Homo sapiens: one gene and its partner. The protein of the gene in region 1 purifies or fractionates together with the protein of each later gene. This does not show direct contact. Each region holds a gene or a part of one and is shown on either strand. Other genes may lie near its edges.

Region 1 (3,500 bases):
CAGACTAAAGACCGTAATGAATGTCAACAGTTTCTCCTAAGTCCAAAATATAAATAAACTAGTCCCAGTAATCTTTAGTTTAAAAATAAAATTTAAATGATTTCCTACTAATAAAGCAAAAGATTAATTCTACAGAAAACATGTCATTTTCGGTACCATCTTTTCTATAAATAACCTGAAAAATTTTAAATCATGCATTACTGTTTTGCCTGTTGGCAGCAGCCAATAATCCTAGGGCTACGTGCCAATATAGACAAATCTGGGGGGAAAAAATACACGTATTCCATTTGTTTTAAAGCAATAAGATGTTTAGCTGTCACTTTCGCTAGAGTAAACACAGTTGAAATTCAACAGAAGTCGTGGTTTAAACTATGTGGCAATTATATAGGAGTAAAAAAAGAAGCTGTTTTGATGTGAATATAGTAACTACAGTGTTTAGAATATGTTGGTCCATTTTCTAGATATTTAAGGTTCGGCTGACACCATTACTGCGTGCATGACAAGCCCTTTCATTTGTTGTTATGCTTTCTTTTAACTTAGGACTGCTGTGAAAGAAAACTTTTAGAGCTTCAAAAGCAAGTCCCTGAAAGTCAAGCAGGATCCATGTATGAAGATCCATTACGTCATACAGACAATGGGTCACTTAAAAAGAGCACAGGTAAACTCATCCAGCTTCCTTTACTCTTTTCTTGAAATAACAAACAGATTTAAAAAATTCCAATTTCTGAAAAACAGAAATGATGTAAGACTTGGATAAGAGTTGGCCCAATAATTCTGGCATTGACTTTCAATATTTGTCCCTAACTTTGCAATAAAGCAGGAGAGTATTAAACTCATTAATAAAAGTTAATAAGTTAGCAGGAGTTAATAATTTGACTACTATTATTTTCTCCCAGATAAGGCCATTAATAAAACATCTCAAGCAGGGTGAGTTATTTTTTAATAAGTTTTTTAAGAACCTAAAGGGATTAGCAATTTTTCATTAACTTAAGGTGAATTTATGGTGGCTTATTTTCAAAGGAATTTAGAAGATTGATGAGAGCTCTAACCCAAGTTTCTAGTTAAATCCTATTAACTCCGTAGTTTAAAAAATTCTCTCAAGCTTAAATCAGCAATAAAGTCAACCCGCTCAGTTCCTGATACCCAAGTTCTTAAGTTTGGATATAAGAGAACATTTAAAGCATATTGGAAAACCTCAATCTATGAGAAGTTCTAGAAGGCTGAAATCTCATTGAGGCAAAGAAGACAGGTAAATGAACTGCATTTAAATGCAGGAAATAAGAGGTATAGGAAATCTAAAAATGTTACCACCACAAAAATAACTCCTAATAAAAAGAGATGTTAAACTGCCGATTTTTTAAAATTAAGTGACTAAAATAAATAACTTTTTGACTTGTGTACAGAAAAAAATGCCAGCTTTTAAAAAACATGGTATGTATAAACTAAATGTCAAATAAGGTTATCCTTCAAATATTTTTATTCAAAATTCTATTTTTAAGTGATTGCTACTTAGTCCCTCCAGCAAACTAGCAAGGAGACGACTTAGCAAGTTATTTAAACTCTTCAGCTTCTGTTTCTTCATGTTTATTAAGGTGAGTTTAACTAGAGTATCTCTATTCTTTGTTTTGGCTTTGAGAGCCTAGGATTGTTTTATTTAAAAAAAAAAAAAAGAAAGAAAGTCTAAAGGGAGTTTTTCCACATGGTTTTGTGTGTGTGTGTGTGTGGTTTTTTGTTTGTTTGTTTGTTTTGAGATGGAGTCTCGTTCTGTCACCAGGCTGGAGTGCAGTGGTGCGGTCTCGGCTCACTGCGACCTCCGCCTCCCGGGATCCAGCGATTCTCCTGCCTCAGTCTCCTGAGTAGCTGGGATTACAGGCACATGCCACAACACCTAGCTCATTTTTTGCATTTTTAGTACAGACAGTGTTTCACCCTGTTGGCCAGGCTGGTCTTGAACTTCTGACCTCAAGTGATCCGCCCACCTCAGTCTTCCAAAGTGCTGGGACTACAGGCGTGAGCCACCGTGCCTGTCCCCCACATGGTATGATTTTTAAAAATTTATTCTGTAGATGTCTTTTCTCTTAATATTGACATTTTAATATATTCTGCATTCTTGTTTAACCAAAGTAACTGAAAATGTGGAAAAGAGAGGCAAAATTACAAAGGAATCTTTCATATGCAAAGGAGGGCAAGTCCTTTCTGACCTTGCTTTTAGTATACCTTCTTGCCTTTCTGGAGCACATGCTGTGCTCTCTTAAGTCTCCTGGTATTTCCTATCTCCCTTTGCCTGGACTCTCGTCCAAGACATCAAAATCCTTCAAGCCTCCACATAAGCCTTATTTACCCTGGAAAGTCTTTCCTGTCTTATCAGTTAAACTGCCAAGCCTCCTTCACGTTTCCATAGTTCCTTGGAGTACTTCCTTTCTGCACTTATCAAAGTGGCAGTCAGGGTCTACTATTTCTATGTCTTTCTACTTTAGATATTTCCAGCATGGGCTCCGGGGAACAGGAGAGGGACCAGGCCTCCACCCTGCTTTCATGATGCTTAGCTTCCCATGCATTTAAGTGGTGTTAATAATGACTTTTTTGTAGAACTAGGTGGATAATACATGTGTCTCTAAAGGCATGGGTGGGAGCTCCTACCGAAACCCTGTGGTTTTCATCTGTTTCACAATCTAAACATGGCCAACTTCTTTAAAAATGTATGCATTGCTCTCCAGAAGAAATAGCTGTGAAAAATGTAGCTAGATCTAATTAGTTACTGCTTATAGAGAAATCTGTCAAAGTTTAACAGATTCATGGTAAAATATGTAACTATATAATAACTTCATACATAAAATAAGTACATATTCAGTATGATAAACAGTATGCTTCAGAAAATATAAAAATAAAAATTTAAAATACATCAAATGATGGGAACTAATCTTAAAGCTGTTAAAGAAAAAGTTTATTCAGAAATCTTATCGCAGGTGCAACATCTACAGCAATGGTCTAACAGAGGTGGTCGAAGGGTTCAAGTTGTGACAACAACAGAGGCCATTTATTGAGCAACTTCTATGCGCCAGGCACTGGGCTAGGGGCTTTACATATACTGTCCCATTTCATCCTTCCACTGTGGCAGACACTATTGTTACTCCAACTTTACAGTTAAAAACAATTAAAACCTAGACAGTATTACTCCCAAAGTCTCTGAGCTAGTTGCCGGCAGCTCTAGAACTCAAATCCAGGTCTCTCTGACCCCAGTCTATGCTGATAGCCACCAGACCATGTGTTCAAATCCACTTTCCAGTAATACATATTACTAGAATAATTTATTTCACTATCCATTTTTTAAGGACTATTAGGAACCTCATCTGCTTTCATTTGTTGGAGATTTGTTTCTTCAGTGCTCCAAAAAAGACTTAAACTATCCAATTTCTATGTAGCATCCAATGAGATACATAATTTGGCAGACATTACATCCATTGAAAACAATGACATCATTGTGGCTCTTTAAAAAAGTA
Region 2 (3,500 bases), on another chromosome or scaffold:
CAATTCTGAGTATCAAATGTGCCTTTGAAAAATATGACAAGTTTTTTTTAATGTTAAGGAAAATTCTGTAAGAGAGTTTTTTTGTTGTTGTTTTTGGGTTTTCCCCCCACCCTCCAAAAGATGAATTTTGCAGCATTTTCTCCCAGCAGCACACTGGTAGCTCTGACATCCTGTATATAATGTGTTCTGGCAATGAAGCCCTCAAGTACCGCAGCTGTCATATACTCCAGCACAGGACCCCCAGAAAGAAGTCCTGCAGGCCCCATGGCATCTTGGTCTTTTCCACACCCTCTAGCAGCACCCAATCCTTGGGCATCTTGCAATAGCGGCTGAAGTCCAGAACTTGAACTTCACTGAGAAAATCAAGTCCACTCAAAATGCAGCATTTTCATCTTTTGGTTGGGTGATTCTTGGTCCCCCATGGATAGGAATGATACCTATAAGATTCAGAAGTGGAAAGAATTCTCTATAGTTACAAATATTTTAGTTCATACATTCAATTTCAAAAACTGGGGCTCAGGCATATAAGTAAATAAATCACAGTAAATAAAAAGACGATTATTTTTGTTAGGATGGGGACATTTTTAAAAAGCTGCCTTTGGCTGAAGTCTGGTGCTAACAAGGCCTTTCTCAAATTATGAACTCAATAGGAACTGATAACACTTTGTAGTAGAAAAACAAATATTCATTCAAAATAGCTTGTATACTTGAATACCTGTGTAGGTTAAAATAACTAATTTACACGCTTATCAGTCAATTGGGGAAATAAAACAATTCAAGTTGATTCAATGTAGATTTGTTATCTTGTATACTGTTATTTCTCAACACATTTTATTATTAAAAATAAAATATTAATGTAATACATAAGTATATTCATAAAGATTATATGCTCATTATCTGTTTATTCATGACTCAAATGATTTTATCCTCACAAACAACAATGATAAAATTAAGGCATATTAAGTTGCATCCTTCTGGTAAGCAAGCTAAATGCTTATGTATATAAAACGTAATTTATCATACAACCATGCAAATGATCAAAAATAGAGCCTGCTTTGGGAAGAGCTATGAGGCTGGCCAAGCCTTTTTGACCTTCTTTAACTTTCTTTACACAGCTTTCTTCCTTCCAACTCAGTCCTAGCTCCCTTTTTCCCAGAAGCCCAGAAATGAGAAATACCCAACCTTGGTCAGAGGTCCTTGCTGCTCTTTCTGTTCCTGTTACCATTTTCTTTTCCTAATGCAGCATTTTATGCCTGAGACATTCTTCCTAACTGTCCAAGCAGTCTCCTCATGATTTAAACAGTTCCAGAAATCTTCCTCAAAGATAGCTAACAGATAGATAATGGCTTTATCCTGAGACTTTCAGTCTGAAAATGGCACCTCTCTATTCTCTTCCTTAACTAAATATAAACCCTATAATTTAAACCAAAAATGTACCTTATCTTGAATTAATCCTTTAGTGACTGGCTGGCTAGATGATGTGTGTACTATTCAAACTGATAGTCTTAAATTGTAAACTTGAATAACACCGAAATTATATATGTAACTTTCTCAGCACGGTGCTTAATTCATTTAAGAACAAATTTTGCAATGACGATGATGACAATGATGACCATGTCAATGAGAACAACAGAGATCTGGGTAGACCCTGGTGAAGGAGTGAAAACGGTGTTCCTCATTTCCAACCACATAGCTAAAACAGCTTTCCTCAATTGTATTCCATGTAAAGAGTGAGGAAAACACTGAGGTCAACAAACAAGGTCAACAGATTTCTTTCTTATAGTACATCTCAGAGTCTTTAATATAGTAATAGGTGTCAACATTCTCCAAATATAAAAAATTGTACATTCTGAGTTTCCCAAATATATGTGGCCATGAAACTTTATTTTTCAGAGACTATCTATTGACATCTTTGATAATATTGCCCATTCTATGAAACCTATTGGGGAAAAATGCAGTCTACTAATTCTAAATACTGATTCTAAATACCTCTACATATGCTGTGACATTTAGCACCCTCCATCCTTTGTGGAAAAAAGCATGACAGTACCAGCTAATCTGATTTGTACTTGGAGTTATGTGTTATTCACAGTTTGTGGATTAGTAGGTGCTTCTAATTGAAGCCTGACTTATTTCTTGGAAATTATTTTGGAATACTAGTAAACAAAGAGTGGCTTTAGGCACAAACAAGGGTTATTTTTACAAACAAATTCTGGAGAGTTTTTCTCCCAAGATATGTTCTATCATTGCTATTAGAAGCCAAAAGGGGGTCGGGTGTGGTGGATCATGCCTGTAATCCCAGCACTTTGGGAGGCCAAGGCAGGTGGATCACCTGAGGCCAGGTCAAGATCAGCCTGGCCAACATGAAGAAACCCCGTTTCTACTAAAAATACAAAAATTAGCCAGGTGTGGTGGTGGGCGCCTATAATCCCAGCAACTCGGGAGGCTGAGGCAGGAGAATCGCTTGAACCCAGGAGGTGGAGTTTGTAGTGAGCCAAGATCGCACCATTGCACTTCAGCCTGGCCTGAGCAACATAACGAGATTCCATCTCAAAAAAAAAAAAAAAAAAAAAAAGAAGCCAAAAAGGGAATACCATGGATATATGGATTTTTAAATGTGATTCATTTTAATTTGGAGCACTTTAAGAAAATTTAATGCAATACCCAACTTATATTGCTTAAACTTGACTGTTTCATCATACCTTCATAATAGATTCACAATTACAAATATAACTGAATAATTTTTTGCCTTTGTTATAAGGCATCTTATTATCTGTTTATCATAATAAGAAAATTTGCAATGTCTTTTAATAAAGCCATATGTCTTTGGAACTAGATCGGTTTAAAACCTAATGAAAGTAGAATTGAAAAAGAATAATGATAAATTCCAAAATAAGACAAATATTTTTTAATAAAGGGAAAATAAAAGTTCTTGTAAGAGCTTCCTTAAGTTCCTTGCACACTTAGTTTTTCTTGATATTTAAATGATTTTCTGCAAAAAATATGAAGACATTCCTTGCCCATGATCCCAAGTCTCTGAGAAAATGCAGATAAAATGACAAGAGTCATCTTTTCCCCAGTACAAGCCAAGGGCACTTGAAATAATGAGGCTCACAGTTAAAAACAGAAACATTCATACTATCCATGATAGTATGCTTATGTATGTAAAATGTAATTTATCATACAACCATGCAAATGATCAAAAATAGAGCCTGCTTTGGGAAGAGCTACGAGGCTGGCCAAGCCTTTATGACCTTCTTTAACTTTCTTTACACAGCTTTCTTCCTTCCAACTCAGTCCTAGCTCCCTTTTTCCCGGAAGCCCAGAAATGAGAAATATCCAAACTTGGTCAGAGGTCCTTGCTGCTCTTTCTGTTCCTGTTACCATTTTCTTTTCCTAATGCATATACTCAGCCCTTGAATAGAAAATGAAAATTCAAAAATCTCTCCAGGGATGGTGGGAGGAGAGTAGTTGTGGAGATGGTAATTTCTATTGACGGT

The links. Proteins that work in one complex are often made in the same cells at the same time.
Region 2: the proteins of CA2 (region 1) and NEK10 purify together in Homo sapiens (co-immunoprecipitation; one large-scale study listed by IntAct). This does not show direct contact.

Annotation. Positions count from the first base shown.
Region 1 is NC_000008.11:85,467,007-85,470,506, reverse strand, and holds part of CA2 (carbonic anhydrase 2), read right to left. Parts: intron 1-3,500. UniProt on the Homo sapiens protein: Catalyzes the reversible hydration of carbon dioxide. Can also hydrate cyanamide to urea. Stimulates the chloride-bicarbonate exchange activity of SLC26A6. Essential for bone resorption and osteoclast differentiation.
Region 2 is NC_000003.12:27,110,884-27,114,383, forward strand, and holds part of NEK10 (serine/threonine-protein kinase Nek10), read right to left. Parts: intron 3,416-3,500; coding exon of another isoform or gene 3,397-3,415; exon of another isoform or gene 3,343-3,396; intron 438-3,342; coding exon 389-437; 3' UTR 1-388. UniProt on the Homo sapiens protein: Plays a role in the cellular response to UV irradiation. Mediates G2/M cell cycle arrest, MEK autoactivation and ERK1/2-signaling pathway activation in response to UV irradiation.